Linked DNA regions of Homo sapiens: region 1 is linked to region 2. The links come from fine-mapping of genetic effects on gene expression. A gene starts in region 2. The other region holds a variant in brackets. All regions are shown on one strand. Distances are from middle to middle. Region 1 holds the start of IFT56 (intraflagellar transport 56). Region 2 holds the start of ZC3HAV1 (zinc finger CCCH-type containing, antiviral 1).

The links.
Region 1: its variant is fine-mapped to the expression of ZC3HAV1 in whole blood (GTEx, PIP above 0.99).

Annotation. Positions count from the first base shown.
Region 1 is chr7:139,122,009-139,136,628 of GRCh38, reverse strand. It overlaps IFT56 (intraflagellar transport 56), which reads right to left and starts at 2,851. Exons shown (of 18, transcript NM_024926.4): 1 at 2,769-2,851; 2 at 1,837-1,974. The coding sequence starts at 2,771. RefSeq lists enhancers at 2,835-3,014, 2,732-3,026 and a silencer at 11,312-11,606. The variant A/T (reference allele first, on the strand shown) is at 5,998.
Region 2 is chr7:139,101,006-139,118,129 of GRCh38, reverse strand. ZC3HAV1 (zinc finger CCCH-type containing, antiviral 1) reads left to right here and starts at 8,410. Exons shown (of 13, transcript NM_020119.4): 1 at 8,410-9,106. The coding sequence starts at 8,799. RefSeq lists enhancers at 8,302-8,461, 8,254-8,757, 8,702-8,801, 9,382-9,511, 15,784-16,355.

The DNA.
Region 1 (14,620 bases), 20 kb before region 2:
TCAAACGAAAATTAGCCAGGTATAGTGGCACGTGCCTGTAGTCTCAGCTACTTGGGAGGCTGAGGTGGGAGACTCGTGTGAGCCCTGGGAGGTTGAGGCTGCAGTGAGCCACCATCACGCCACTGCATTCCAGGCTGGGTGACAGAATGAGACCCTGTCTCAAAAATAAAATAAAATAAAGGCAACCTGGTGTTATGCAACAAGGAAAATGTGGTCATTGTCTTAGAGAAAAAAGAGGAAAACAGACTGATGAAAATAGATATATACATAGCACTCAGTCCACTGATTCACAGAACTAGAAGGTTCTTCCATGCCAACTCCCCCACTGTAAAGATGAGAAAGCTGATGCCCAAAAAGCTAAAAAACACGCTCAACACCAGAGTACTTAGTAAGAAGGCAAACTAGGCCGGGCGCGGTGGCCCACACCTGTAATCCCAGCACTTTGGGAGGCCGAGGCAGGTGGATCACCTGAGGCCAGGAGTTGGAGACCAGCCTGGCCAACATGGTGAAACCCCATCTCTACTAAAAATACAAAATATTAGCCAGGTATGGTGGCAGGCACTTCTAATCCCAGCTACTCAGGAGGCTGAGGCAGGAGAATTGCTTGAACCAGGGAGGTGCAGGTTGCAGTGAGCTGAGATTGCGCCATTGCACTCTAGCCTGGGTGACAAGAGTGAAACTCCAACTCAAAAAAAGAAAAAAGAAAAAAAAAAGAAAGTGAACTATTTGTGGAAGATGGAGAAATATATGTAAACCTAATTATAACAATTATTAAGGGTAGATTCAGAGTAATATGGACAGAGTAGCATTTTAAGAGAAATGAGTGTGGTACAACACAACCAGACCATGCTGTCAGAACTCTTCATTCTTTGGTGCAACCCTTCACCCTCCTATAACATGTGTTTCCCACAAAGCAGTTTTTTAAAGCACAGTCTCCTGGGACCATCTCCATCAGAAGCACTTAGACTACTCACCTTAAAATGCAGATTCCTGAGCACCTCTGCAGACTTACAGCAGGAGCCCAGGAATCGATATCTTATTAAGTACCCTAGGTAATTCCAATGTATATTAAAAGGTGAGAACTACTGCCATGGAGATTTGAAATATTTTCTGGGGCTATATTTTCAACCGTAAGCATGTTAGAATTATTTAAGTTTGATCAAAATTTTAGAACACATAATAGGAAAAAATCATACATTGGTCAAGGGTTGGGATAAGCAATGTGTGAAATGACATTGTATAAAAGGTCCCTTCATATTTTTAGATTGTAATCACTGTTGGTGAACTAGACATACTCAAAAGTGGCCCTCAAGAAATAAGTTTTGTTTTGTTTTTTTTTTTTTTTTTTTTTGAGACGGAGTCTCGCCTTGTAGCCAGGCTGGAGTGCAGTGGCATGATCTTGGCTCACTGCAACCTCCGCCTCCCGGGTTCAAGCGATTCTCCAGCCTCAGCCTCCCGAGTAGCTGGGACTACAGACACGTGCCACCATGCCCAGCTAATTTTTGTATTTTCAATAGAGACGGGGTTTCACCATGTTGGCCAGGATGGTCTCGATCTCTTGACCTTGTGATCTGCCCGTCTCGGCCTCCCGAAGTGCTGGAATTACAGGCATGAGCCACCGCGCCCGGCCAAGTTTAGTTTTTTAGTTCGTTTTTTATCAGGTTTATAGCTAACTTGGAATCTGGAATCTGTGCCTGACTAGATTTACAGGGGATTTGTACAGGAAGCCCCAGAATGCACCCACCTATTTCAAGAGCATAGCAAACAGCATTCACCCAAGCATTCATCTACAGTCTGGTATTCATACACTAAGAAGCAACGTTCTTTGGGCATTACCTCCAACAGGGTAATAGCTCCAGTGAAATCTCTTTTTGAAAGTAGCTCCTCTAGTTTTGGAATCTTCCTACCTTTCTTCTTTCTTTTGTCAGTGTGCTGTACGCCTCTGCCTACAGCAGGTTTGGCCCTTGAAAGCATCTGTAAAAGAAACAAAGACAGCTGTATGGTCCAATTCTGATTATCAGATTTAAACTGAGAGTGACAGCTCTGTAATTTATAAGTCAAGGCCGGGCACAGTGGCTCATGCCTGTAATCCCAGCACTTTGAGAGGCGAAGGCGGCGGATCACGAGGTCAGGAGTTGGAGACCAGCCTGGTCAATATGGTGACACCGCATCTCTACTAAAAATACAAAAATTAGCCGGGCGTGGTGGCATGCGCCTGTAGTCCCAGCTACTCGGGAGGCTGAGGCAGAAGAAACGCTTGAACCTAGAGGCAGAGGTTGCAGTGAGCCAAGATCGCGCCACTGCACTCCAACCTGGGCGACAAAGCGAGCCTCCATCTCAAAAAAAAAAAAAAAATTATAAGTCAAATCCTTAACAACGAACCCCAGGGAAGCCTATTCAAACTCGTTTTGTAACAGGTATTCTACTAGAAGAGCCATCAGCCAATACTTAGGAAGGACCAAACAGCTACTCCCAACTTTTATCTTCTCTGGCTAGAGATGCTTTCGCATTGCTTCTGTCATCTCAGCTTTCCCTTCCTCTGCTTCCCATCCCACGAGTGGTTTAAATGTGAGTAAACGGAAAAGCAGGAGGGAAGAAAGCACCGAGGTATTTACAGTTGCATCCCTGTCCCCCGTGGGAACACAGGGAGAGCTGGGGATTACTCTCTGCGGACACACCTAGACTTCACACAGAAGTGTGCTGGGAACCTCTAATCGCCAGCCTCAGGACCTACTCAAAGTACTCCCTTACTATTCAGAGCCACTAACCATCTTGACGTCGGTCTTGTGAGTCCCCACCACACAGCGAAGGCCGCGCCTCAGCGTTTCGCCGCATCCACACAGCACGTTCTGTCTCCACGGTAACCCCGCCTGGACGCTGGTACGAACGGGAGAAAAGCTCGTTGGAGAACCAGCGCCCGCGGCTTCTTGGTTCCGTGCAGCTTCTGCCGCGGAAGAGCCGAGGTTCCTCTTGGGAGGAGAGCGTCGTTCTCTGGGCTGAGAGCGAAAGTTTGGTTGTCTCTATTTATGAGTTTACTTTAGGAAAAGGCGAATTGGAATGGCATTGTTTTTCAAATGCAAGTTTTCTGGGAAAGAAATTTTCAGGGACCACTTCTGTTTGGGGCCGTGTTGGACTCCATAGCAACCCTTGACTATGTGCACCGCAGAATCTTGGTCTCTGGCTGGTGCGGGAAGCTTAGAAAATTTCTGCTGAAGGAGTTGTAGTTCTGTGATTTGGAAGCAGGAGTGCACCAAAATACAGTTTCCTATTTCCACAGATACACCTACACACAATAGAGAACTGTAATAAATATTTGTCGATTGGATGACTTAATTTATCTATCTTACTCCTGAACCCAGTTAATACAGGGGCAACCACAGTCTTTAAATTCACGAAATCGTGGAATGTTAGAGTTGGAAGGGACCTTACAGGACCTCTGGTCAACCCCTCAGAATTAACAGACTGAAGAACTAACATCTTGTTAGTTAACTAATGTCAGCCTAAAATAACCAAAAAGCTCAGGGATCCAGTTGAAAGAGTTTATTCAAGTGCAAAGTGTGAGGGCGGCTATCCCGGGAACCACTGACAGCAAAGAATGGTGATCAGTGCTCCCTGATGCAGGGAAAGGTGAGGGTCATTTATATCACCAAAAACAGGAGTGCTGTACGTAATTACAGCATTTTCTAGATGAGGCTAACGTACACAGAAGATTCAATTCACTACTATTGATTACACTGTAAGGGGGTTGTTTAATATTCTATTGTAAAGAGGTAACAATCACAAGGGTCTCTATCTCCAACGTCATTTAGTCTGAATAAAGAATAAAAAATCTGGTTAATATATAACATCAACACAAAGATCAGGAAGCAACAGTCATGCACCAGAGAAGAAAAACAGCCATGTTCTGTGATTTAGTTTACAGGGCTTAACTTTTCCCCTTGGCATAGTACGTTTGGAAAGTGCTGAAATTTTCTTTTCACATTTTCCCCTTTTCTTCAAAAGCTTTCAGAGAAAGCATTATAGAAGAATTATATTCTCAGGCCGTGTATTTGATCAAACCTCATGTCACTAGGAAGGCCCCTTCCTGGCAGTCACATCCCAGGGAGGAGGGGAAATTGGAAAGGACCAAGTCCGAATTATAAAGCAACAAGAGAAAGTAGTTCTGGAACCTGATTCAGGCTACACGGCTGCCTCTTCAATCAAACAATTCTCTGAGTAGTCTTTGTTCTACACATTTTCTCAGCTGTGTGTTGACCCAATTGCAGATAAATACCATAACAGCTCTGCAGACAAAGGCAAGACAAAACACAAACTATGATAATTCCTAAAATACATAACAGCTTTTGCCACCAAGTTCCCCAAGATCCAAATCAATTACTTAACCAGTAGCTTAGAGAGGGTTTTGGATCCGAAAGGTTAATTATTAGAGTTTTTCAAATCAGTTATTAATTTGGTGACGTTATTTGATTCATCTGGGATATAAACACAGCATTCAGTTTCTGTCATAGCACAGATTCCTCCTTGGGCTGCAGTGAGTATGTCTAAGACCATACAGTTTTGTAATACAGTCTTCTCATGACAGTAACTTCATTATTTAATAATGAGACATTCATGTGGCTGTTATTTAGGGCCTTTTGTGTGTAATTGGTTAGGGCCTGTACATGGCAAATGACATCTTCAATACACAGTTGTGGTACAAAGACAGAAGTGAATCTAAGTGGCTTCTGGAAGGTAAGCACTTTCTATTTCTTCTGTTAAAGACACTATTGCGTAAACCTTTACAGTAAGTTCCAGATTCATCCTTTAAATAACATGCGTCTGTAAACCAAACAACATTAGCCTAAGTAAGAAAAGTCTCTTGCAGATCAGTCCTAGGAGAAAACAAGTTTATCAGTTAGAGTTATGCAATTGTGTGGTGTTTCATCTGAAAGTGAAGGAAGAAGAGTTGCAATATTTAGCTTGTTACATCTAGAGATGGTGACATGAGAAGCTAAAAGAAGTGAAACTTTCTATGAAGTTAGTCTACTCATTGAATAACGTTGAGTGTGGTTCAAGTTTAGCAATGCTTCCACAGAATGAGGGATGAAAACAGTAAGGGGAGTTTTAAACAATTTCTTTTCTCTCAGAGTGTAAGGAGAAAAGGAAAGGCCCCTTTAAGTTCCATGGAGCACCCCCATTCTTTATTATCTGACTCCACCTGTTGTTCTTTCCTTTTTAGTTTTTGGCAGTTCGTTTTAATGTGATCAGGCTTTTTGCATTAATTGAAAGTGTATGGTTAAGTCTATTTGCGGATTTATAAGGATATCTTGAAGGTCCAAATTGTGTGGACATTTGTTTCGACTGTAAAATCATAATTTTATTAGCCTTGCTCTTTTGTTTGGCCTCCTTCTCAGATTTGTCTTCAGTTATGAGACAACTGGGCAGCAAGACTGACCAAATTATGATTTTGAGAAGTGGCCCAGCGAGGGTTTTGTCTTTTCATTATTAGTGCTAATTCTTCATCTAACCTATTTATAAAACTGGAGTTGAGAAGAATATCATTTTGATTATTAGCTTAGCTTTCTTCAGATAAACCCGAATATTGTTTAAGTTTACTCACACCTCTCAAAATATGATATTACTGACTCATCTGGATTTTGTTGACCTTGTTGTATTTTACTACAGTCAACTACTCTTAGAAACAGTGAGGAGTGGCTTGAAGCAATGCCTTTGCAGTTTTGTGTGTCTGCCTACAGTCCTGAGCATTTATGAAAGTCTTCTAAGAGATTTCTATAATGGGCCTTGTCTGTCTAATCTTTTTTTTTTTCTTTATACTTTAAGTTCTAGGGTACATGTGCACAACGTGCAGGTTTGTTACATATATATACATGCGCCATGTTGGTGTGCTGCACCCATTAACTCATCATTTACATTAGGTATATCTCCTAATGCTATCCCTCCCCCCTCCCCCCACCCCATGACAGGCCCCAGTGTGTGATGTTCCCCTTCCTGTGTCCA[A/T]GTGTTCTCATTGTGTCATAGCGTTCTCACTGTGTCATAGTGTTCAGTTCCCACCTATGAGTGAGAACATGCAGTGTTTGGTTTTTTGTCCTTGCGATAGTTTGCTGATAATGCTGGTTTCCAGATTCATCCATGTCCCTACAAAGGACATGAACTCATCCTTTTTTATGGCTGCATTGTATTCCATGGTATATATGTGCCACATTTTCTTAAACCAGTCTATCATTGATGGACATTTGGGTTGGTTCCAAGTCTTTGCTATTGTGAATAGTGCCACAATAAACATACGTGTGCATGTGTCTTTATAGTAGCATGATTTATAATCCTTTGGGTACATACCCAGTAATGAGATGGCTGGGTCAAATGGTATTTCTAGTTCTAGATCCTTGAGGAATCGTCACACTGTCTTCCACAATGGTTGAACTAGTTTACAGTCCCACCAACAGTGTAAAAGTGTTCCTATTTCTCCACATCCTCTCCAGCACCTGTTGTTTCCTGACTTTTTAATGATTGCCATTCTAACTGGTGTGAGATGGTATCTCATTGTGGTTTTGATTTGCATTTCTCTGATGGCCAGTGATGATGAGCATTTTTTTCATGTGTGTGTTGGCTGCATAAATGTCTTCTTTTGAGAAGTGTCTGTTCATATCGTTCGCCCACTTTTTGATGGGGTTGTTTGTTTTTTTCTTGTAAATTTGTTTGAGTTCTTTGTAGATTCTGGATATTAGCCCTTTGTCAGATGAGTAGATTGCAAAAATTTTCTCCCATTCTATAGGTTGCCTGTTCACTCTGATGGTAGTTTCTTTTGCTGTGTAGAAGCTCTTTAGTTTAATTAGATCCCATTTGTCAATTTTGGCTTTTGTTGCCATTGCTTTTGGTGTTTTAGACATGAAGTCCTTGCCCATGCCTGTGTCCTGAATGGTATTGCCTAGGTTTTCTTCTAGGGTTTTTATGGTTTTAGGTCTAACATTTAAGTCTTTAATCCATTTTGAATTAATTTTTGTATAAGGTGTAAGGAAGGGATCCAGTTTCAGCTTTCTACATATGGCTAGCCAGTTTTCCCAGCACCATTCATTAAATAGGGAATCCTTTCCCCATTTCTTGTTTTTGTCAGGTTTGTCAAAGATCAGATGGTTGTAGATGTGTGGTATTATTTCTGAGGGCTCTGTTCTGTTCCATTGGTCTATATCTCCGTTTTGGTACCAGTACCATCCTGTTTTGGTTACTGTAGCCTTGTGGTATAGTTTGAAGTCAGGTAGCATGATGCCTCCAGCTTTGTTCTTTTGGCTTAGGATTGTCTTGGCAATGCGGGCCCTTTTTTGGTTCCATATGAACTTTAAAATAGTTTTTTCCAATTCTGTGAAGAAAGTCATTGGTAGCTTGATGGGAATGGCATTGAATCTATAAATTACCTTGGGCAGTATGGCCATTTTCACGATATTGATTCTTCCTGTCCATGAGCATGGAATGTTCTTCCATTTGTTTGTGTCCTCTTTTATTTCGTTGAGCAGTGGTTTGTAGTTCTCCTTGAAGAGGTCCTTCGCATCCATTATAAGTTGGATTCCTAGGTATTTAATTCTCTTTGAAGCAATTGTGAATGGGAGTTCACTCATGATTTGGCTCTCTGTCTGCTATTGGTGTATAAGAATGCTTGTGATTTTTGCACATTGATTTTGTGTCCTGAGACTTTTCTGAAGTTGCTTATCAGCTTAAGGAGATTTTGGGTTGAGATGATGGGGTTTTCTAAATATACAATCATGTCATCTGCAAACAGGGACAATTTGTGTCTGTCTAATCTTTAGCTTTACTTTCTGATAGTCACATGTGAGTTAGTTGATATAAATCAGAATAACCAGGGCCATAAGCTCAGATATTTAATTCAAATTCCCTAGCAAAACAAATAGGATCCTGGTTAAGGTCGGGGAATTATTTAACTATGCCTTTAAGTTCTACCTTAGACCATGGTTGATAAACTAAAGCAGGTTTCCCTCTACCAGATGCTGGATGTTCATTAAATGAAGCCAAAAATGTGGGAGCAGGTGGAAGGGGAGGAGAGGGAAGAGAAGGTCAGTCTGGGCAAGGTAGTTGTGATAAGGAGGGATAGAGAGAAGGGGGAGCAGAAGGAGGAGAAGCAGCAGTTTCAGCAGCTTTTCTGAATAAAAGTTTTAGAGGCTTTTCATTCTCTTTCTATAGGAAAAGAACTCTGTCACAGCCTCTTTTGCATGCTTCTGGGTAGCATTGGAAATAACTCTCCAAATTATATTGTTTAATTCTGGAGCTGGCTTTTTCTAATTGTGCATGTGAGCAAACTAACTTAGGCATTTCACAAGTACCCTACTTTGGCCACTGTAATTCAGGGTCTTCTTGGGTCAAGTAAGACCATTTTTCCCAATACTGACAGGAGGTAGCAGGTGCGATGGCTCACACCTGTAATCTCAGCACTTTGGCAGGTTGAAGCAGGAGGATCACTTGAGCTCAGGAGTTTGAGATGAGCCTGGATGATGTAGTGAGACTGTCTCTATAAAAACTGAAAAAATTAGCCCAGCATGGGGGTGTGCCTGTGGTGCCAGCTACTCGGGAGGCTGAGGTGGGAGGATTGTTTGAGCCCCGGAGGTGGAGGTTGCAGTAAGCCGAGATCGTACTACTGCACTCCATCCTGGATGACAGAGTGAGACCCTGCCTCATAAAACATACAGACACACATACACACATATTTATGTATGTAGGTTGTTAGGTTGTGTGTATATATATACAGGAGGTGGCACTGTAAGTCTTGTACATAAATTTAGCTGGAGTTTCTAAAAGTGGGTCCTCCCTTAAAGAGGACTTTGTTTTAGATGAACAGTTGTCCATAATTTGTATCCTCTTTTAAATTGACCAAAGATTGAAAGGGAAAGACGTTTTGGGTCTAGTGTGCTGCTTAATAGTTTTTACTCCTCAAGGTTTCACCCATGAGTCACCTCTCCCCTCTTATGTGTCCCAATGAAACCCAGAAATTTCTGGGGGTTTTAGGTACTGGGAGCCCAACCCCTTATGTGTGCCCACCGAGTTAAGCAGATTTCCCTGCATATTCTTCTTTGAGATTTCCCTAGAGCATAGTTACACATCCCAAGCTATGGACTCTGACATTCTTACATGACCTCAATCACCTAAGGTGCTTTTCTTCTGGGAGGAACAAGGTCTTTTGTATTTGGGACTTATGTCCTCATATGAACCCTGTTTATAAATTTTTGGTCACTCAAGAATTAAACTTAAATGTCAATTTTTACTGAGCTCCAAAACCTGGGTCACCAACCTGGGTCCAATCAATTTTTTTTTTTTTTTGAGTCATAGTCTCACTCAGTTACCCAGGCTGGAGCGCAGTGGCATGATCTGGGCCCACTGCAACCTCCATCTCCTGGGCTTAAGCAATTCTCCTGCCTCAGCCTCCCAAGTATCTAAGATTACAGGCACATGCCACCATGCCTGGCTAATTTTTGTGTTTTTAGTAGAGATGGGGTTTTGCCATGTTGGCCAGGCTGGTTTCAAACTCCTGGCTTCAAGTGATCCACTTGCCTCAGCCTCTCAAGTGCTGGGATTACAGGTGTGAGCCACTGGGCCTGGCCTAAAACCACAAATTTACCTAAAGCCACATACATTCACTTTCTCTTTTCAGAGAGAGAACCTATTTTGTCCTCTGACCAAATTCGAATGACCGAAAGGGCCATACAAAGTGTAGCAAGTAGTTCAACAAACAAACCTTAACCTCAAAGAAAAGTGAATGTCATAAATCTGTGAAAGACAAAATAAGCAAACAAAACTTCTATCTTAAAGTACAGCTTCAATTCCAGCTCTGTGGAGCATAGAACTGGATCGCTTGTGTAAAGTGTGAATCTCAGTCAAAGCCAGGGAGATTCAAAACCTGAGAGGAAGCCTTGCCAGAGCCCCCTGCCAGTTCCAATGAGGTGGGATGAGCAAAAGCCGCTCCTGTAGACACCAAAGCTCCGAATGTCAGCAAAGAGGCACAGATCTCAGGAGGCCCGCTTAGAGTCTCTGGATCATCAAAATGTCAATCTAATATAATCAAACAGCTCAGGATCCAGTTAAAAGAGTTTATTCAAGTGCAAAGTGTGAGAGTGGCCATCAGGTAAACACAGACACCAAAGAAAGAATGGTGATCAGTGCTCCGCGATGTAGGGAAAGGTGAAGGTGGTATATGTAGGCAACCACAAGTGTGTTGCACAGAATTACAGCATATTACAGCATTTTCTTTTCTTTTCTTTCTTTCTTTTTTTTTTTTTTGAGACGGAGTCTGGCTCTGTCGCCCAGGCTGGAGTGCAGTGGCACCATCTCGGCTCACTGCAAGCTCCACCTCCGGGTTTCACGCCATTCTCCTGCCTCAGCTTCCCAAGTAGCTGGGACTACAGGTGCCTGCCTGGCTAATTTGTGTGTGTGTGTGTGTGTGTGTGTGTGTGTGTGTGTGTGTGTGTGTGTGTTTAGTAGAGACGGGGTTTCACTGTGTTAGCCAGGATGGTCTCGATCTCCTGACCTCGTGATGCACCTGCCTCGGCCTCCTAAAGTGCTGGGATTACAGGCGTGAGCCACCGCGCCCGGCCAGCATTTTCTATATAAGGCTAATATACACAGAAGATTTAATTCACTACTGTTGTTTACACTCTAAGGGGGTTGTTTAACATTTTGTTGTAAAGAGGTAACAATCACAAGAGTCTCCGTCTCCAACGTCATTTAGTCTAGGTTTGAATAAAGAATAGAGAGGCTGGTTAATGTATAACATCAACAAAAAGATCAGGAAGCAACAGTCATGCACCAGAGAAGAAAAACAGCCGTGTTACATGACTTGGTTTCCAGGGCTTGACTTTTCCCTTTGGCATAATAAATTTGGAAGGTCCTGAAATTTTCTTTCTTTTTTTTTTTTCACAGTAACAAGTTGGGCAAAATGAGGTAATTCTCCTGAGCGAATTTAAGTAATTGTGCATTGTTGAGTTACATTACATACCCTCCTGAATAACTAGCCTATGGAGATTCAAGTATACCATGAGCTCATGGAAGGCAGGTCTGATTTTTTTTTTTTTTTTTTTTTTTTGAGATGGAGTCTCACTCTGTCACCCAGGCTGGAGTGCAGTAGTACAATTTCAGCTCACTGCAGCCTCTGCCTCCCAGGTTCAAGCCATTCTCCTGCCTCAGCCTCCAGAGTAGCCAGGATTACAGGCATGTGCCACCACACCCAGCTAATTTTTTGTATTTTTTGTATTTTTAGTAGAGATGGGATTTCACCATGTTGGCCAGGCTGGTCTGGAACTCCTGACCTCAAGTGATCCGCCTGCCTCTGCCTCCCAAAGTGCTGGGATTACAGGCATGAGCAACTGTGCCTGGCCAGGTAGGTATGATTTCTTAGATTCTATTGCATACTCCTCATGCTCTGGCAACCCGCCACCACACCCCCCACTGTCCCTGTCACCCCACTGCAATCACTTGGTGAGTAAATGAATGACTAGATATCTTACTTCACTGATTATATATATAGAAAAACATCGATATACAGAGATACATAAAGACAGCTACATGTGTAGATTTCAGATAAGCACAAATTCACCAGTAGTGTACTTATAATTCTTTTGGTTCCAAATTTCAGAATTATCCCTATGTTTGGTTGAATTTAAAACAAAAATTATTTCTAGCTCCTCTTTACAGCAGAATGTTCTTGTAGGGGAGTGAAAAATGACTTCCCTCTACTCTTCTAAGTTCCTTGGCTGGGCTATGAATTAAACTGACATAAGACAGATTAACAAGAGGAAATCCATTTTTAATTATGTACATACCCATGCAAGCCCACAAAATATGAGATTCAAAGAAGGGTCAGATGATTGAAGCTTATATAGCACCCTGAGGTACAGAAGGGAATAGAGGCTTTGGACTTCTGCGTGGGTGGTGGTGACACCAGTTATGAGAATATGAGGGGAGGAAGTGTATGGTGAACAAAGGTTTCTTGTTATGCAAATGAGAAGCCTCTCAAGTAATAAAGGTTCTCTTGGAGCAGCCCTCAGAAGAAGAGGTGGCTGTCTAGGCATGATGTCAACCTCCAGTCTCCCCCTCTCTGATCTAAGTTCATTGTCCCTGGTTGATAAGGTTCCAGGGGAGGGGATTCATGACAATTGAGTTCCTTTTGGAGGATCCCTTGATCTGTCTTAGGCAGATAAGCAGATCTCAGAGAAAGTCTCTGCCTGCATCTGTTTTTCCCCAAGTGACATCAGTTCAAAGTAATGAGCATGTCAAATCATCATAGTTTGGGGTGGCATTTCTGAACTCCCATTGTGTATTTTTGGTGATAGCTTGATATATCATTCAAATTACCATAAAACCCACACTTTTAAAGTGTGAGTGGCTTTTAGTATATTCACAGTGTGCATCCATTATCACTATTGAATTCCAGGACACTGTTATCGCCCCAGAAAGAAACCCCACACCCGTCCGCAATCACTCATTGTTTCTCCCCTCCTCCCAGCCTCTGGCAACTACTAATCTCTTTATTGTCATTATAGATTTGTCTATTCTGGACATTTAATATAAATGAAATCATACATGTGGAGGTCCATATACCATATAGCTAAATGCTGGAAAATTTTAAATCAGCTTAGCAAACTGTTCAATAAAATGTTTTATCCTCCTACCTTGACAAATATACTATTATGAAGAAGGTCAGGCTCCAATTTAGAATTCTCGGACTTCTCAAAATTCTGTTGTGGATGTGGCAATGCAAAGAGATCCAGCCACAACCCTCAGCCCACAACCCATCTCTTCTCACTCCAGGTTCTCTCTACCCACACTATGTAGGGCTTTGTGCATGTGTGTGGACACCCAGCCCACAAATTCAAGCTGTAGTCACCCAACTCATCTGTGATCTGTCATTTCCTAATAGACCTATAGGGAGAACAGACCCCAGGAAGAGACCTGCTCAGGTGTGGAAACAGGCTTGGGGTTGCATCAGCGGGGGATTCAGAGTCCTGGGCACCACAGCATGGTCAGGAGAGGTGCAATGACCCCTTAACTCCATGGACTTTTCATACCTGGCTTAGGATGTGGCCACAGTACAGAGCCCAGAGCAGGGGCTTCTCTTGCCAGGGTCTGAAGGGTTGATGATACTATAAACAACCCTGCTGAATTTCCTAAATCAATTGAAATGACCACTGACTTCCAACAGTTAGGTATAGCTTTAAATCTCTAAATCCTGGTAGAGGCTGTTTGAACTGTAGCTGTAGTTATGAAGGGCAGAATATGACACTGAGTGTACTTGAGAAGAAGTTATTATTCCGAACTACGGCTCTAATGGTATTATGAAACATATAACATAGGCACACAAAACCTGGTTGCATAGGTAACAGGCAAAGTTGGAACTTGCAATTTCATTGCAGCTGCAATGGAGCAGTGGATTCTGAGGGACTGTAAAACATAATCCAGGTTTTGATGATTGTATGACAATAAAAATTTATTAAAAAGCATTGAATTGGCCAGGCGCAGTGGCTCATGCCTGTAATCCCAGCACTTTTGGAGGCCGAGGTGGGTGGATCACAAGGTCAGGAGTTCAAGACCAGCCTGACCCACATAGTGAAACCCCGTCTCTACTAAAAATACAAAAATTAGCCTGGTATGATGGTGTGCACCTGTAATCCCAGCTACTCAGGAGGCTGAGGCAGGAAAATCACTTGAACCTGGGAGGTGGAGGTTGCAGTGAGCTGAGATCATGCCACTGCACTCCAGCCTGGGCAACAGAGTGAGACTCTGTCTCAAAAAAAAAAAAAAAAAAAGCATTGAATTATACACTTTGAATAGGTGAATTGTATAGTACTGTAAACAAAAAATAAAATTCTAAGCCCCCACCCCACCCCGACAAGCATCTGAATGGATGCCTCCTCTCAACCAAGGGCATTCCAAAGTTAATCTGAAAAACTAGTTCAGGCCATGATGGGACGGGGGAGCTGGACATTCCTCATTATATCCTCCTTGCTTTTGGAATTACGGATAGAATAGACTCTTTAAATCTGATAAGAAACATTTATTATCTATTCTCTCGGAAGCCTGCTACCTGGAGGTTTCATGTGCATGATAAAACCTCAGTCTCTACAACCCGTTATTGTAAACCAGACATTCCTTTCTATTGATAATAACTCTTTGAACCAGCTGCCAATCAGAAAATCTTTGAATTTGCCTATGTCTTGGAAGCCCCTATTTATAATTGTCCCGCCTTTCCAGACCCAACCGATGTATAGTTTACCTGTATTGATTGATACCTTATGTCTCCCTAAAATATATAAAACCAAGCTGTAGCCTGACCACCTTGGGCTCATGTTCTCAGGATCTCCCAAGGGCTGTGTTACAGGCCATTGGTCACTCATATATGGCTCAGAATAAATCTCTTCAATTATTTTACAGAGTTTGACTCTTTTTGTTAACAGTAAGTAAATTGTGTCTTGCTAAATCTGGTTTTGTTTGTTTGTTTATTTTAAAGATAATCCAGCCCAGAGCTTAGAGTGCTGCTCTGGAGTCTATGTTTCTCCAATTCAGCCTTGATACACAGTGATGCTGACCCTAGGTCCTTAGAAATCACTGTAGAAATCATGTCTCTGTC
Region 2 (17,124 bases):
AACAAAAAAATAAAAACACGGGCAAGTATCAGTTGAACAAAAAAAATTCTCCCTCTCATTACCGGAACAATCTTTTCCCTCTCTTCTCCTCCCTTCCCATTCCCTTCCCTTCCCTGTCAATCCTCTAAAATGAATGTTCTATACTCAATTGTTTTATTTCTTTACTTCATACACTTTGACTTCCAACTTCAGCATTCTGAGAGAACTGGTCTGTCAAGTGAGCTGGAATAATATGAGATTGTATACAGGAGAATTTATTGACATAAGGGCACATCTCAGGATACGAGGTTGAGCATCCTGATAAGAACCAGGGGATGGTACAAAATTGCTGCTAGGTTGGCTCCCTGAATCCTGGAAAAGTGCTGATTCATGAAGAGTGAGTCTGAAGTGCCTAAATTGCTATGTCAGGCAGTAGAGGAAAGGATTAAAAGACTCAGAAAAGGGGACATGCTGAAATAGATGTAAGGTTAGGCCAGAACAGCCACCCGGGGATTATGTCCCATAGGATCGCTCAAGGAGCCATATTCATCAAGGCCATAGGGAACGCATTGGTGAGAGGGACAGCAACGTCGCTAATAAGTTCAGTGGTGCTTTCCCCAGTAGAACATAGTTGATGGAAGGAGGGGCTGTCCTGGAACTTGGCTCACTGATAGCAATGAAGATGATGGGCTCCTGATGCACTGGACACCAGAATGATGGCACTTAAGGGCGGAATGACAAAATCAGAGTGGCAGCTAACAGGACCTGACTTTTAGGGAGTTGTAGGGATTGTAAATAGCACACAGTTTCTCTAGGAAGAACATAGACGCGTGGGTAGTCAAAAAGTCCAAATGGCCCTCAACATATGATTTTTCTGCCTCACCATGGTGTGCATTCAGTAGAAACTGCACTTTGAATTTTGAACTTTGATCTCTTCCCAGGCTAGGGATATGCCATATGATACCCTCTTCTGATGCTGGGCAGTGGCAGCAAGCCACAGCTCCCAGTCAGCTACCTAATGACAAGAGTAAACAACGGATACTATACAGTGTAGTGAATTCAAAAATTACATGATGAGATATTCAGCACTTTGTTATGCACTAGGCTTTGTGTTTGATGATTTTGCTCAATTGTAGGCTAATGTAAGTGTTCTGAGCACATTTAATGTAGCTTAGGCTAAGCTATGATATTTGGTAGGTTAGGTGTATTAAATACATTTTTGGTGTTTTTTTTTTTTTTTTTTTTTTTTTTTGAGACAGAGTCTTGCTCCCAGGCTGGAGGGCAGTGGGGTGATCTAGGCTCACTGCAACCTCTGCCTCCTGGGTTCAAGCAATTCTCCTGCCTCAGCCTCCCAAATACCTGGGATTACAGGTGTGAGCCACCATGCCTGGCTAATTTTTGTATTTTTTTTTAGTAGAGGTGGGGTTTCATCATGTTGGCCAGGCTGGTCTTAAATTCCTTACCTCAAGTGATCTGCCTGCCTCAGCCTCCCAAAGTGCTGGGATTACAGGCATGAGCCACCGTGCCTGGCCTAAATACATTGTTTACTTACAGTATATTCAATGTATGATGGATTTGTTGGGACATAACCCCATTGGAAGTCAAGGAGCATCTGTCGTGCTTCACATGTATAATCTAAAATAAAAGAATTAATAAGCAGGACAATGAGGAAAACATTTCCTTGCCTGGTTTCCATTCCTGAACCAATGTTCAGACTCAGAACCCACTGAGTGAAGTGGTGGCCAAGTCACCAAGATGAAGGACCTGTAACACTGTGGCAAGAAAGTATTGTCACAGTTCCTCTGATTCTTCCCCTAAAGAGATCTACAATATTTATTCCAGTGATGGAACACGGGATGGGGGAATATGCAGACATTTTGGTGACTGTTGGGTACAAGGTCAGAGGTCAACTGATGCCCAGAGAACTGAAGCATTCTCATCGCTTCCATGTTAGAGTGGGAGCAAATGGAGTCCTGACTGAGTTCCAGCTTACAGTGGGTTCTCTGGGTCCATGAACCCACCAATCGTCCTTCTCCTAATCCCCAAATATATGGTTAGGATTGCCACACTTGGGAATTGGGCTAACTCTCACATTCATCCTGGTTTTGTAGAGTGGGAGCTATCACAGTAGGGAAGGCTAAGTGGAAGTATCTGAAACTGTCCCCCACCCCAGCCAATGTGGTAACTACAAAATAGCATTGCAGTCTAGGGTGAGGAGGATGGCAGATATTAGTGCCACTCTTAAATATCTAAAGGATGAAGAAGCATGGTCCCTGTCATGTTTCTGTTTAATTTGCCAGTGTGGACCCTGCAGCAATGGGATGGTTCCTAGAGAATGACTTCAGACTACCGCAAGGAAGTAGTAGCTCTGTACTGGATATAGCATCTTTGCCAGAGCAGATTTATGCAGTTTGAAGTGGTTTGAGGCCATTGATCTGGTGAATGCATTCTTTTCTATTGCAATCAAGAAAGAGGATCAGAAAGAGTTCATATTCATATGGAATGCATAGCAACAAGCCTTTACAGTTTTGCCACAGGGCTATGTTCCTTTTCAGTCCTCTGCCGTAATCTAGTCCAAAGAGAACTGGAGCATTTGGACATCTCACGTAACATCACATTGATCCATCACATCGAGGATGTCATGCTGCTCTAGCAGGATGAGAAAGAGGTGAAGAGCATGGTAGAGGCCTTGGTATGACACATGTGCTCCTGAGAGTGGGAAATAAATCCTACAAAGATACGGTGACCTGCCACTTCACTAACGATTTGAAAGGTCCAATGGTCACCAGTGTGCTGGGACATTCCTTCCAAGGCAAAAGAAAAATTGTTGCATCATTTATATTTATTGGAAAGAAGGAAGCACAAAGTCTGTTAGGAATCTTTGGGTTCTTGACAAAACACATTTCACACCTAAGAATACTGCTGCTGCGCATATACTGGGTTACACAGAGATTGCCAGCTTTGAGTGAGGCTCAGAACAGGAAAGAGCTCTCCAGGCTGTGACACAAGCAGCCCTTTTGAGTGGACTGTAAAATCTGGCACAGCTTCTCATGTTGGAGATGTCAGTGATGGAAAAAGATGTAGTATGGCATTTATGGTGAGTCCCAATAGAGGAATCACAATGCAGACTCCTTGGATAGTGTAACAAGGTCATGCCAACTGCAGTGAAGGATTACACTCCTTTCAGAAAACAGCTCCTACTTTCTACTGGGCCCTGGTGGAGACACCAAGTGATCATGGATTCAAAACTGGCTGCCATCAGCTACGTCCTGTTAGACACACCAAGTGATAAGGTCAGGGCGGGTCAGTATCAAAGCCATCATAGGATAAAACTGGTACATCTGGGACTGAACACAAGTGGGACCAGAGGGCACACGCACACTCAAGCTGCATGAGCAATTAGCCCAGATTTCCATGTCATTCACTACGGTTGCACCAGCACCCCTCCCCCAGCCTCACCTGTGGTCATGTGAGGGGGTCCCATATAACCAGCTAAAGGAGGAGGGAAAAAGACCAAGTTTGCGTTAAGGATGGGCTAGCTTAATATGTGGGTACAAGCTGAAAATGCATGGCAGCTATATTACAGTCTCACTCAGGGAAGTCCTTGAAAAACAGTGGTAAGGGAAAATCTCCCCAGCGGGAGGAGCTTTGAGAGTGTACCTAGTCATCACTTCGTATGGAAGGAGTATGGCCTAGGGTTAGAACATACATGGTCTCATGGGCAGTGATGGTGGCCTGGCTGGGAGTTTGGGAGCCTAAAAGTAAAAGGAAGCATATGAATAGATGTATGGAAGTGGGCAGTTCATATCACATTAAGACCCACAAAAGATGTGCCAACTACACAAAATAACTTGGCCAGTTAATGTTGGCCAGGCTTAGTGACAGGCCCCCTCCCCCACTGCTGCTCAAAGAGGCCATGGTGGCCAGGAGATGGAAGCGATGCAAGAACCTAACAGCATAGATTATCATTTGCCAAAATAAACACAGCTACTGCCACCTCTGAGTGTCTGATCTGCCAGCCATAAAGACCAATGCTAAGCTCTATTCCTTAAGGAGACCAATAGACTACTTGGGGACCAGTAGACTGCATCGGGCCCCTTTTGTCCTGGCAGAACCATCGGTGGTTCTCACAAGAAGAGGCAGTTATTCTGGATTTGGGGTTGCCCTTCCTCCCTGCAGAGCCTCAGTAGTAGCACTCTTTTTTTTTTTTTTTAGATGGAATTTCACTCTTGTTGCCCAGGCTGGAGTGCAATAGTGCGATCTCAGCTCACTGCAACCTCTGCCTTCTGGGTTCAAGCGATTATCCTGCCTCAGCCTCCCAAATAGCTGGGATTACAGGCGTGTGCTACCACACCCGGCTAATTTTGTATTATTAGTAGACACAGGGTTTCACCATGATGGTCAGGCTGGTCTGGAACTCCTGACCTCAAGTGATCCCCCTGCCTCAGCCTCCCAAAGTGATGAGATTACAGGCTTGAACCACCGTGCCCGGCCAGTAGCACCACTTTCTGGAGACTTAAAGATTGCCCGATCCACAGACATGGAATCACACTTAACATAGCATCTTATCAGGTGAATCTTTTCATGGCACAGAAAGTGGAGGGAATGAACCCATGAACATGGTACTATCCATGGTCCTATCATACACTTCACCACCCAGTAGCTATAGGATGAAGTATTGGAATGGCTAGTTAAAGATGGAGTCAAGCACCAGAATGGAGCTGATACCCTACAATGATGACACAGACTCCAGAACATCGTGGTATATGCCTTGAATCGGTCAAGTTAGTATGGTACTGTGTCCATACATGAGTCTGGAAAGAATGGGTAAGCCTGAGTGGCCCTACTTAGTATAATTCCAATGACCCCCTGCAATTTCCTCTCCCAGCAATGCTGGGCTCTGCAGAGTTATAGGTCTTGGTTCCCCAAAGGGGCACACTCTTGCCTGGAGATACCACAGAGATCCCACTGGACTACTGTGATGGCTGTCACCAGGTACTTTGGCCTCCTAATGGTCAGAGACTAGCAAGTAAGAAAGGGAATGGCCATCTTATTCGAGGTAACTGTTGCTGGTCAGCAGGAGGTGTGGCTGTTGTTACACAATGTGGGCAGGTGGAATATGTATGGAATTCTGGTGACCTATTTTGGTGTCTCTTGGTAATCCTTTGCCCAGCTGGGACTGAGATGTGCTCAGACCACTTTCAAATAGGGCACCCGACCAGATTAAGCTACTGAGAGCAGCTGAGGTGGTGGCCAAGGGTGAGAGGGATTGGAATGGATAGTGGTAGAGGGATATGATGAGGACCAGACCACCAGCTGTGGCCTTGAGACCAACTGCAGTGACAAGGACTATAGTTCATTCCACTAATTTCTCTCTGGTAAGCTTCCTTGTAGGAAGAGTGACCCTGAAAAGCCTGTTCCCTAAATACAAATGGATAAAGAAAGCCATGTAGTACAAAGGGTGGACTACAGCTGACACAGGGTGGCACTCAGGTCAAGCTTGCAGCCCAGCTTTGAGGAGCATGTTTAGCCAATATCCTCCAGCTTTAGCTCTTTCAAGATCTGCCCCAGCATTCGAGCTGAAGTCATCCACTTCTCTGGTGGCCCCCACCGGTGACTGAGCAAGGCAGTACAAGGGCCTAGCCTTTTCTGTCCAAAGCTGGACTCCTACTCCAGAGCTCCTCATTGGGCTGGCAGAGACTTTGTTAGGTCCGCACAAAAGTCTGATAGGCCCCATGGATCAATCATGCTTTTTCCTTTGACTTTTTCTGGCATTATGCCCCAGAAAAAGTGCAGAGAAAGTTCTGCACTCTTAACTCCATGTCAGGATCTCCTTCCTGGAGAACCCAATCTCTGATGGCACATATTTCAAAATTTTTCAAAATGTCTCCTTTTCCCTTCCCAGAACTCCTTAAATCACCTTTCTCTTTCACTTTCCCTTTCTTTTTTCCTTTCACTTTCCCTTCTTTTTTCCCCTTTTCCTTTTCCTTCCTTTTTTTCCTTTTCCTTCCTTTTCCCCTTTCCTTTCCCTTCTTTCCTTTCCCTTCCTTCCTTTCCTTTCTCTTCCTTTCCTTTCCCTTCCTTTCTTTCCTTTCCCTCCCTTTCCCTTTCCATTTCCCTTTCTCTTTCATTTTCACTTTCCCTTTCCCTTTCTCTGTCACTTTCCATTTCCGTTTCCCTTTCCCTTTCCCTCTCTTCCCTTTCCAAAAGGATCTTCCTCTGTTGCCTTTGCTGGAGTGCAGTGGCACAATTGTAGCTCACTGCAACCTTGAACTCCCGGGCTCAAGAAATCCTCCCGCCGCAGCCTCCCAAGTAGTTGGGACTACAGGCACATACCACTATGTCTGGCTAATTTTTATTTTTAGTGGAGATGAGGTCTCGCTATGTTGCCCAGGTGGATCTCACAGTATGTTGCCCAGGATGGTCATGATCCTCCCGCCTTGGCCTCCCAAAGTGTTGGGATTACAGGCACAAGCCACTGCACCTGGCCCTTAAATCATTTTTCATGGCTTCAAATTGGAGGAGATTCTATGTCTGTACTCCCAACCACTGTAGCCAAACTAGACTCTTCAGTCTCTCATCTTCTATATTCCCATTGTGGCATTTACCCATGAATTTGCTTATATTTCCATGCATTTTTTCATGTCTTCGCATACATGCTCCTTGAGTGCAGGGACTGTTTTTTAAACTTCTGCATGTCCTTACATTACTAACTAATGTAAATACCACATAGAAGATAGTCAATAAACATCTAGAACTTAGTTGATTTGATAATAAAAGGTCCCTGGGAACCTGTCAGACCACAAATAAGGCCAAGTGGATTAAAAGACAACTATAGAAGCAGCAACTAGAGGGAACAAGATGTCCCTCTTAGACATCCTAAGATGATCCTATGTGGCCCCCATGTTTGGCTGGTTTTCATAACAAAGTACTCTATTCCTGAAAGAGGGTTTATATACCATGAATGACAAAACTGAGGAGAATTCTCATTAATCATTTTGAAGAATTTCTAAGTTAGCAACCAGAATCTATTATTTTTTAAAAAGATGTATTTCTTATCTGATCAAATGACCCATCTATTTTATTTGAAGATGTTGGAAAAAAAAACCTTTTTTCTCTTCAACTTGTGTCCTGTCTTTGGGGGCCTAAAAATTAACTGGCACTAGACAGATAAATAGGAGAAAAGACAAAGTTTATTTACACATGCATGCAGGAGCTTCCAGTAACAGAAAACTCAAAAGTAAAGGTTTATATACCTCAACTTAACAAAAAGGAAAGTTTTAGGGCTTCAGTAGGAGAGTTTGGAAGTTTTGATTGGGTTGTTTTGTGTTTTTGAGACAAAGTCTCAGCGCTATCCCCCAGGCTGGAGTGCAGTGGCACAATCCCGGCTCGTTGCAGCCTCCTCCCGTGCTCAAGCAATCCTCCCACCTCAGGCTCCCGAGTAGCTGGGACTGCGGCTGCACACCACCATGCCCGGGTTGTTTTTATTATTATTATTATTATTATTATTATTATTATTATTATTATTATTGAAGAGAGCTCACTATGTTGCCCAGGCTAGTCTTGAACTCCTGGGTTCAAGCAATCCTCCCACTGCCTCGGCTTCCTAAAGCGCTGGGATTACGGGCTGAGCCACAGCACCCAGCCCATTGGGTTTTTTGGTGCTAATGGTAATGGGACAGTCTGTCTTCCTGGCAGCTGAATACTCCGAGAGGCTTTTAATGGCACCATGTTTTCGGGAGGTTTTGCTTTAGTCAGATAAGGGAAGTTTCATTAAGATTTCTTTCTACATCTTCTGTAGCTCAATGTTTTCACTTAAAAACAATCTTTATGTCAACTCTGGGGGTCAAAGTACGTCCCCACGGTGGAAAAGTTCTTGTCCCAATCTCTACGGGGAGGAACCGATCTGAAATCTTGGGATATGTCTTAGCATGTCCACCGTGATTGAGGTACAAGCAGTGGTTCAGGGCACCGAGTTAGCGATTCTAGGTAAGCAAGACCATGTCAAGAAGTGGTTTGTCCAAAAGTTCGTGAGAAGGCAGAAACGAGGGAGAGTGGCAATCGTTGTTCTTTAAGAGGGCACGGTGGTGGAGGAGAAACTTGCACATCGGGGCCTGGGGTACCACGATCTGGGGCCTGGGGACGCGATTTGGGGAAACTCGGTGGCATCTGGGCTCCGCTTGATGCCAGTGCGTGTTCGTGCAAGTTACTTCCTCAAGTTCAGGGTGAGGATAATAATATCTACCATGTGGAGTTGCTGGGAAGATTCACTACCAACAGAGGCAGAGCGCACGGCTCGCAGGAAGCGCTCGCTAGGGTCTGCTCTTTCCGGGAATGGGTGGGGTGCGCACTCCTCAACAGGGCTCTCAGGACTTGCGTCACACGCCTCAGTCGGCTGGCTTATAAAACACCGGCCAGAGCCCCAAGATCGCTTTTAGTTTCTCTTCTTTCTAAAGAAGGCTCGCGGAGCCCGGCTGGAGAACCTCACCCTCGCCGAGCCTAGAACCGAGAGGGGGCCACCCCAGGCGGTCACCAGCAGATTTGCCCGCGCGTTCTCTTTCTTTCCACCCAGTTGCCCTTGCGGCCGGCTGTAAACCTGCCACTAGGACCCGGTCGGTGAGATCTAGCCTCTTGACCTGAGAGCCGAGAGTGGATCGCTGGGCTGGGCTAACGGCGACGGAGAGCGCGCCCTCGCTGACTCCGGGCGCGCCCAGCAGTAGCACCGCCCGCGCCCGCCCCTGGACACTTGTAAGTTTCGATTTCCGATTTCCGCGGAACCGAGTCCCGCGCCGCGGCAGAGCCAGCACAGCCAGCGCGCCATGGCGGACCCGGAGGTGTGCTGCTTCATCACCAAAATCCTGTGCGCCCACGGGGGCCGCATGGCCCTGGACGCGCTGCTCCAGGAGATCGCGCTGTCTGAGCCGCAGCTCTGTGAGGTGCTGCAGGTGGCCGGGCCCGACCGCTTTGTGGTGTTGGAGACCGGCGGCGAGGCCGGGATCACCCGATCGGTGGTGGCCACCACTCGAGCCCGGGTCTGCCGTCGCAAGTACTGCCAGAGACCCTGCGATAACCTGCATCTCTGCAAACTCAACTTGCTGGGCCGGTGCAACTATTCGCAGTCCGAGCGGTGAGTGCACCCGGAGGGAGGGGCGCTGTCCGCAGCCGTGGTCGGGGTGGACTGTCCAGGCGGGCAATGTTCTGGGAGGGGCACGGCTTCGCCGGGACCCCGCACCTGACAGCCTCCGCCTCCAGCCACTCCCTTCTCTGCTCCCCTCTGGGAGCCTCTGCAGGGCCCGCGCTTCTACCTTTGCAGTTCCCTTCCTTCCGGCACCTCCAGACATTTTCTCGAGAATGGCTAAAATGCTAGTGCCTGGAGGAGACCAGGCTCAACCTCCACCCCTTTCCCCGCCCGCCCGCACGAATCAGAAGAATAAAGTGCTCTGGAGCCAGCCAGGGCCTAGAGAAGCGGTAGGCAGGTTTGGGAAGGAAGGAAAGAGCCTCCCGTCTTTGGTATCTTGAGTCTTTCCCTCCCTACTACCTCCTTCCCTAGACGTGGCGGAGCCAGTAACCCAGCCGCCCTGGGCCCCCGGTCCGTCTCCGCCGGAGCGAGCCGCAGGTCTCTCTGCTTGTCCCTCCCTTCCCGGTCACCCCCATGCCCCTCATCACCGCTTTTCTGATGCCTGGCGCGTAGCAGGGGTGGCCCTTTTCCAGGTTCCTGAAGTTGTAGCAGCCGCGGGCCTTCCCTCCGGGTGGTCTCTCTACGGTGGCGCGCGCAGTTGACCGCCTGCCTTGGGACAACTCTCTTAAATCCCTTTGAAGCAGTGTGGCTCACGTCTCGGGCCACTGCTTCTGTTGTTTCCGTTTGCCTTTTTTTTTTTTCGTCTAAATGCAGATGCGCTGCAAGGTTTGGGTTAAGACTCTTGAGTGATTTTCTTCCCAGTTTCTCCCTAAGAGAGCTTGCTCCCTCGAGGACAGCTGCACATCTAAAAAGATGGCTTCCAGGTCCACATTCGCTGCCCAGGCCTTTCCCTTGATCCCAAGCCCTTCCTCTCCCGCGTGTGTCCTGTCCATGGAGTCAAACTCATCTTTTCCCCCAGGCAGGGTTTTAATCCTCCTCACAATCTGTCATCACCAAGTCCTTTTTGTGAAGTCTCTTTCCCTTCTTGGCGGATTCTGCCTTCCCATCTAATTTCTGAATGAACTGAATGAACGCCTTGTTGAATTAATGAATGGCCAGTCTTTCCTCCCACCCTTTCTGTCACTATGTGCTCTGCTCAATTACTTTTCTCGATACAGTACTTTTTACACTTGGCCCATTCTTAAACACTTTGACTTGTGTCCCAGGGTTTAAAATGGTTGTCAGCAAACTTTTTAGGCTGGAGTGCAGTGGCTCCACCTCGGTTCACTGCAACCTCCACCTCCCAGGTTCAAGCGATTCTCCTGCCTCAGCCTCCCGAGTAGCTGGGATTACAGGCATGCACCATCGCACCCGGCCAATTTTTGTATTTTTAGTAGAGACAGGGTTTCACCATGTTGGCCAGGCTGGTCTCGAACTCCTGACCTCAGGTGATCCACTTGTCTCAGCCTCCCAAAGTGCTGGGATTACAGGCATAAGCCACCAAGTCCGACCAGTCGGCAAACTTTTGATCACGCACCTAACAAAAACTCCAGTCACTCACCCCCAATATACGTGTAATAAAACACACAAAGGTAAGTGTTTTAGATGGATGAGGTAGAGGACGCAATGTATTTTTTTAAAAATTTCTTTAGAGCAAAAACCCTTTCAGCTCACTCTAACGTTTTTAAAAAGTGCTTGAATGTGTTCCTTTATTTAAAATTTTCTTTAATATGTTGTGGGGCAACAATTTGAAGGTTGTTTCTGAGTTGCTGGGAGTTATGGGTATCGAGGAAATCATCTAAGTCATTGCTGGTCACTGAAGAAATCTCTGAGAAGGAGAAGAGAGCAGAGGGTGGAGGATAGAAAAGGAAGGAACATTCTAGCATGTTCTAGCACTACACCAAATAACATGGTTGGAAGGCTTTGTTATGTTTTTTCTGTTCTTATCTTTTCTATTATGACAAATTCTTCACCAACTAGTGTTGATTTTTAGTATGAAATACATATGCTTTTTATTTTTTTATTTCTTACTATGGATATTTTCAACATACTCAAAAGTAGAGAGAAAAAAATGATGAAGCCCCTTGTACCCATCATTTCAACAGTTTTGAAAATATGGCCAGTTTTGTTTCATTTATTCTCCCTATTCCCCATGTGTCCCCAACTCCAATGTGTTATTTTAAAGCAAATCTCAGCAACCATTTGATTACTAAGTACTTTAGTATCTCTAAAACATAAGAACTATGTTTTATTAACATAATACAGTACAATGATCACATTTTTGTAAAAAAAATTACAATTTTAATATCATCTATTGTCCAGTTGGTATTCAAATTTCCCTGATTGTCTTATAAATCCAACTTTTATTTTCAGGGAAAAGGATACATAGACATAATCCTTTTAAAAAAAGATTTTTTTAAAATTTTTTGAGATAGGGTCACCCAAGGCTGGAGTGCAGTGACCCGATCTCAGCTCACTGCAAACTCTGCCTCCCAGGTTCAAGCAATTCTACTGCCTCAGACTCCCAAGTAGCTGGGATTATAGGTGTGTGCCACCATGCTTGGCTAATTTTTTGTATTTTTAGTAGAGATGGGGTTTCGCGATGTTGGCCAGGCCGGTCTCGAACTCCTGAGCTCAAGCGATCTGCCGGCCTAGGCCTCCCAAAGTGCTGGGATTACAGGCCTGAGCCACTGCCTCACCTGGCCTATAATTGTTTTCATATGTTACATATCTAACATTTAAATACTTTGTTTCAATTTGTTGTAGGCAATATGCTTAGAAATTTTAGTTTTATGAAGTTTATTATGGTATATTTTTCCCTGGTTTGAAACAGCAAAACTGTTTTAAACTCGTTAATTGGGTTGTTAACCTCCACTTTTATAAGAATATATATAATATAGGGATTATTTGGTCTATCTAAATTTGGATGGACCCTCCAGAGAAGTCAATAAAGTTTATTTTTTTTAGTAGAGTGATAAAATCTTATTTCCTAACATTTATTGGCAGAGCCATATTTTTAATTTCATTTTATATCACTTTTGAATTTGGGAATTACAAACTTTTAATCTATTAATGTATAAAGTGTTGTAATAAGGACCTCTGGGAGAATTTTTTTTTTGTCCTCGGGTCCTAGAAAACATGTTTTTTTCCTCCCTACTTATGTTTTAAAAATATTCTCCTCTTAGCGAGTAATAAAACCTTGTCTTCCAAAACTTGCCACTTGTGAGTTTAAGAACTTTCTTTGTAGATTACCAGTTAATGGGGTCTGTTAACTAATTGATACCCATCTTGACATTACTATTCAGTTCACTAAACTGGTCTCTGTTTACAGGGGGACGATTTGCATTGTGCTGGGTGTATAAAATTTTGTCTGTGGTACTATTATTTATAGATAGGATTTATCCTGTCTATTCTGTAGTTCCTGTCTTTTCTTTTGCAATGTTTTTAGTGATACATTTTAGTTGACAACAGGGCTTGCTTCAATGTTGGATAATTGTTTTGGTGAATCGGTTTGGATATTTCTATTTGCTTTGCTGAAATATATGCCCACACATGGAGTTCTAATCCCACTTCTGATGCAAAAATAATCACTATTTATCGAACAAATAACTATGTGCCAACCACTATGATAAGCACTTTGGAGATGATATCCAGGTTAGTCTTTAGGATAGCTCCTAAGGTAGTATTTTAAGTCCCATCCTTATTGTAGGAAACTCGGGCATGGAGCCTTTCAGAAATCTACTGAAAGTAACATAACTAGAAGCTGGCAGGATTGGTATTTGAACCTAGATCTGCATGACTTCCTTTTTTTTTTCTTTAGAAATGAGATCTTGCTTTGTCACCCAGACTGAAGTGCAGTGGCACGGTCATAGCTCACTGCCACTTCGAATTCCTAGGCTCAGATGATCCTCCTCCCTCAGCCTCCTGAGTAGCTGGGACTACAGGTGGGCGCCACCATGTCCGGCTAACTTTTCTTTTCTTTTTTTTTTTTTTTTTTTTTGAGACAGAGTCTCACTCTGTCACCCAGGCTGGAGTGCAGTGGCGTGATCTCAGCTCGCTGCAACCTCCGCCTCCCCGGTTCAAGCGATTGTCCTGCCTCAGCCTCCCGAGTAGCTGGGATTACAAGCATGTGCCACCACACCCAGCTAATTTTTGTATTTTTTAGTAGAGATGGGATTTTGCCATTTTGCCTGGGCTGCTCTCAAACTCCTAGGCTTAAGCAATCTTCCCAGCCTCCCAAAGTGCAGGATTACAGGCATGAGCCACCGCTCCCGGCCTTGTTTGACTTTTTTTTTTTTTTTTTTTTTTTTTGTGACAGAGTCTCGCTCTGTTGCCAGGCTGGAGTGCAGTGGCGTGATCTCAGCTCGCTGCAACCTCCGCCTCCCCGGTTCAAGCGATTCTCCTGCCTCAGCCTCCCGCGTAGCTGGGACTACAGGCGCCTGCCACCACGCCTGGCTAATTTTTTTTCATTTTTGTATTTTAGTAGAGACGGGATTTCACTATGTTGCCCAGTCTGGTCTCCAACTCCTGAGCTCAGGCAATCCGCCCACCTCAGCCTCCCAAAGTGCTGGGATTACAGGCGTGAGCCACCGCGCCCGGCCTTGACTTCTTAACTAGCTACTTACATTGTCCAGTAACTATATGAAGTTATTAATTCAAAAATTTATTTTGCCTGCATGATTTCTGTTAACTGTTTCAAGCAGGCTGCCTAAGGGTCTTTACCTTGCTTTGCGGTTTTTGCCGATGTGGGTGTTTCCTCTGGGTTCTTTCCTGTTTGTATGTCTTTCCTTTTCGGTTAATTCACATTTTGGGTGGGGGTGGGTAGATGGGAAGAGGACTAGTTGACTGTTTCGCAAGTTGAATAGAATACTGAAAAACGCAAGCATCAGAGAATATTTATTCTGAACCCATAAAAGTTATAACTCACCTCCTGGGATAAATAAGTGTTCACATTTTTCAGTTTTGCTCCTCTTTTAAAATATACTAAACAATCATAACAGACCTAAGGTTATTTTTTTCTCATCCCCAGTCTCATTTCCCTTTCCTAAGAAGCAGCTTCAATCATGATTTTGGTGTGTATCTTGTCCTTCCATGATTTTATAATTTCCTCTTGTATATGTTTGCATCCATATACAAAATGTAGTATTTTATGTGTTTTAGAATTTTTATTCAATGCTGTGTTTTGGAGATCTATTCATATTGCTACACAAGGACCTAGTTTATTCATTTTAACAGTTGAAAAGTATTTCATCATAGGATTTATACCACAGTTCAGTTACCTATTCCCCCCAGTAATGGATATATAGTATATTTCCAGGTTTTTGTTATACCAAATCGTGCTGCCAAGAATTTACGTGCAAGTGTTTCCTGGTGCTCATGGTTAGAGCTTTTCCAGGGTAGATCATTAGGAAGTGGAATTGTTGGTTTGAATTGTTACATAGCTTCAACTTTTCCAGATTCTGACGAATTAGTATAAAGGTGGCTGTGCCAATTTATACTTATATGTCTGAGTGTCCCAGTTTCCTCATTTTCTGGCCAATTAATGCTTGGTGTTATCAGACTTTTTTGGCTTATGCCAGTCGGAAGGCTTTGAAATAGTCATTATTTGAATTCAAAAAAAATTTTTTTCCTGGGCTGGGTGCAGTGGCTCATGGGTGTACTCCCAGTGCTTTGGGAGGCCAAGATGAGAGGATTGAGGACAGGAGTTCAAGACTAGCCTGGACAACATAGTGAGACCCCATCAAAAAATAAAAAAAAAATAAAAAAATAAAAAAATAAAAAACAAGTAAAATAAATAAAAAATAAAAATAATTATATAAAAAATATTAGCTGGGCGTGGTGGTGCATGCCCATAGTCCTAGCAGTGCTGGAGGCTGAGGCAGAAGGATTGTTTGATCCCAGGAATTTTGAGGTTACAGTGAGCTATGTTCATGCCAGTGCACACCAGCCTGGGCAACAGAGTGTGGCTCTGTCTCCAAAAAAATTTTTTTACAACAAATTTTAAAGTTTTTGTATTAAAGTTTTTATTTTATATATATCATATATAAACACACACACACATATACATATACATATACATATACATATACATATATATATACTTTTTTTTTTTTTGAGACAGGATCTTGTTCTGTCACCACTCTGGAGTGTGGTGGTGCAAATATGGCTCACTGCAGCCTCCACCTCCTGGATTCAAACGATCCTCCCATGTCAGCCTCCCAGTAGCTGGGACCAGGCTAGTGCCACCATACCTGGCTAATTTGTGTGTGTGTGTGTGTGTGTGTGTGTGTGTGTGTGTGTGTGTATAGAGACAGTGTCTCACTATTTTGCCCAGGCTGGTCTCGAGTGCCTGGGCTCAAGCATTCCTCTTGCCTCAGCCTCCCAAACTGCTGGGATTACAGGCATGAGCCACTAAGCCCAGCTCAGCATGATTTATTACTGTTAAATATTTAGACATTTGTATCCAAGCCTCCATTTATAACCTTGCTCTGGGCCCCACCAATTTTAGAGAAGGTCTACTCTGATTCCCTGAAATGTCTTCATTGTTTTCTTTTGCATGAATGTACACAATTTATATATTGATCTTCTTATTATTAAAATTGAGACTGGCCTCAGTAGCTAATATCTGTAATCCCAGTACTTCAAGAGGCCGAGGTGGGAGAATCTCTTGAAGTCAGGGGTTCGAGACCAGCCCGGGCAACATAGCTCCTACAAAAACATTAAAAAATAAAATTAGTTGGACACAGTGGCACACACCTGTGGTCCCAGTTACTCAGGAGGCTGAGGCGGGAGGATCACTTGAGCCTGGGAGGACAAGGCTGCGGTCAGGTGCAGTTGCGCCACTGCCCTCCAGCCTGGGCAATAGAATGAGACCCTGCCTCTGAAAAAACAAAGTAAAATTGATATTGTTTTAAGTATTTGCTATTAAACCATTATGCTTTGAACATTTTGGTATATGCTTCTTTGTGTACATGTACATGAGTTTCCCTAGAGATCTAGTAGTGGAATTTTGATTTTTTTTTTTTTTTATTGATCATTCTTGGGTGTTTCTCACAGAGGGGGATTTAGCAGGGTCATAGGACAATAGTGGAGGGAAGGTCAGCAGATAAACAAGTGAACAAATGTCTCTGGTTTTCCTAGGCAGAGGACCCTGCGGCCTTCCGCAGTGTTTGTGTCCCTGGGTACTTGAGATTAGGGAGTGGTGATGACTCTTAACGAGTCTGCTGCCTTCAAGCATCTGTTTAACAAAGCACATCTTGCACCGCCCTTAATCCATTTAACCCTGAGTGGACACAGCACATGTTTCAGAGAGCACAGGGTTGGGGGTAAGGTCATAGATCAACAGCATCCCAAGGCAGAAGAATTTTTCTTAGTACAGAACAAAATGAAGTCTCCCATGTCTACTTTCTACACAGACACAGTAACAATCCGATTTCTCTATCATTTCCCCACCTTTCCCCCTTTTCTATTCCACAAAACCGCCATCGTCATCATGGCCCGTTCTCAATGAGCTGTTGGGTACACCTCCCAGACGGGGTGGTGGCCGGGCTGAGGCGCTCCTCACATCCCAGACGGGGCGGCAGGGCAGAGGCGCTCCCCGCATCTCAGACGATGGGCGGCCTGGCAGAGACGCTCCTCACTTCCTAGACGGGATGGCGGCCGGGAAGAGGCGCTCCTCACTTCCCAGACTGGGCAGCCGAGCAGAGGGGCTGCTCACATCCCAGACGATGGGCGGCCAGGCAGAGACGCTCCTCACTTCCCAGACGGGGTGGCGGCAGGGCAGAGGCTGCGATCTCGGCACTTTGGGAGGCCAAGGCAGGCGGCTGGGAGGTGGAGGTTGTAGCTAGCCGAGATCACACCACTGCACTCCAGCCTGGGCAAGATTGAGCACTGAGTGAGCAAGACCCCGTCTGCCATCCCGGCACCTCGGGAGGCCGAGGCTGGCGGATCACTCGCGGTTAGGAGCTGGAGACCAGCCCGGCCAACACAGCGAAACCCCGTCTCCACCAAAAAAATACGAAAACCAG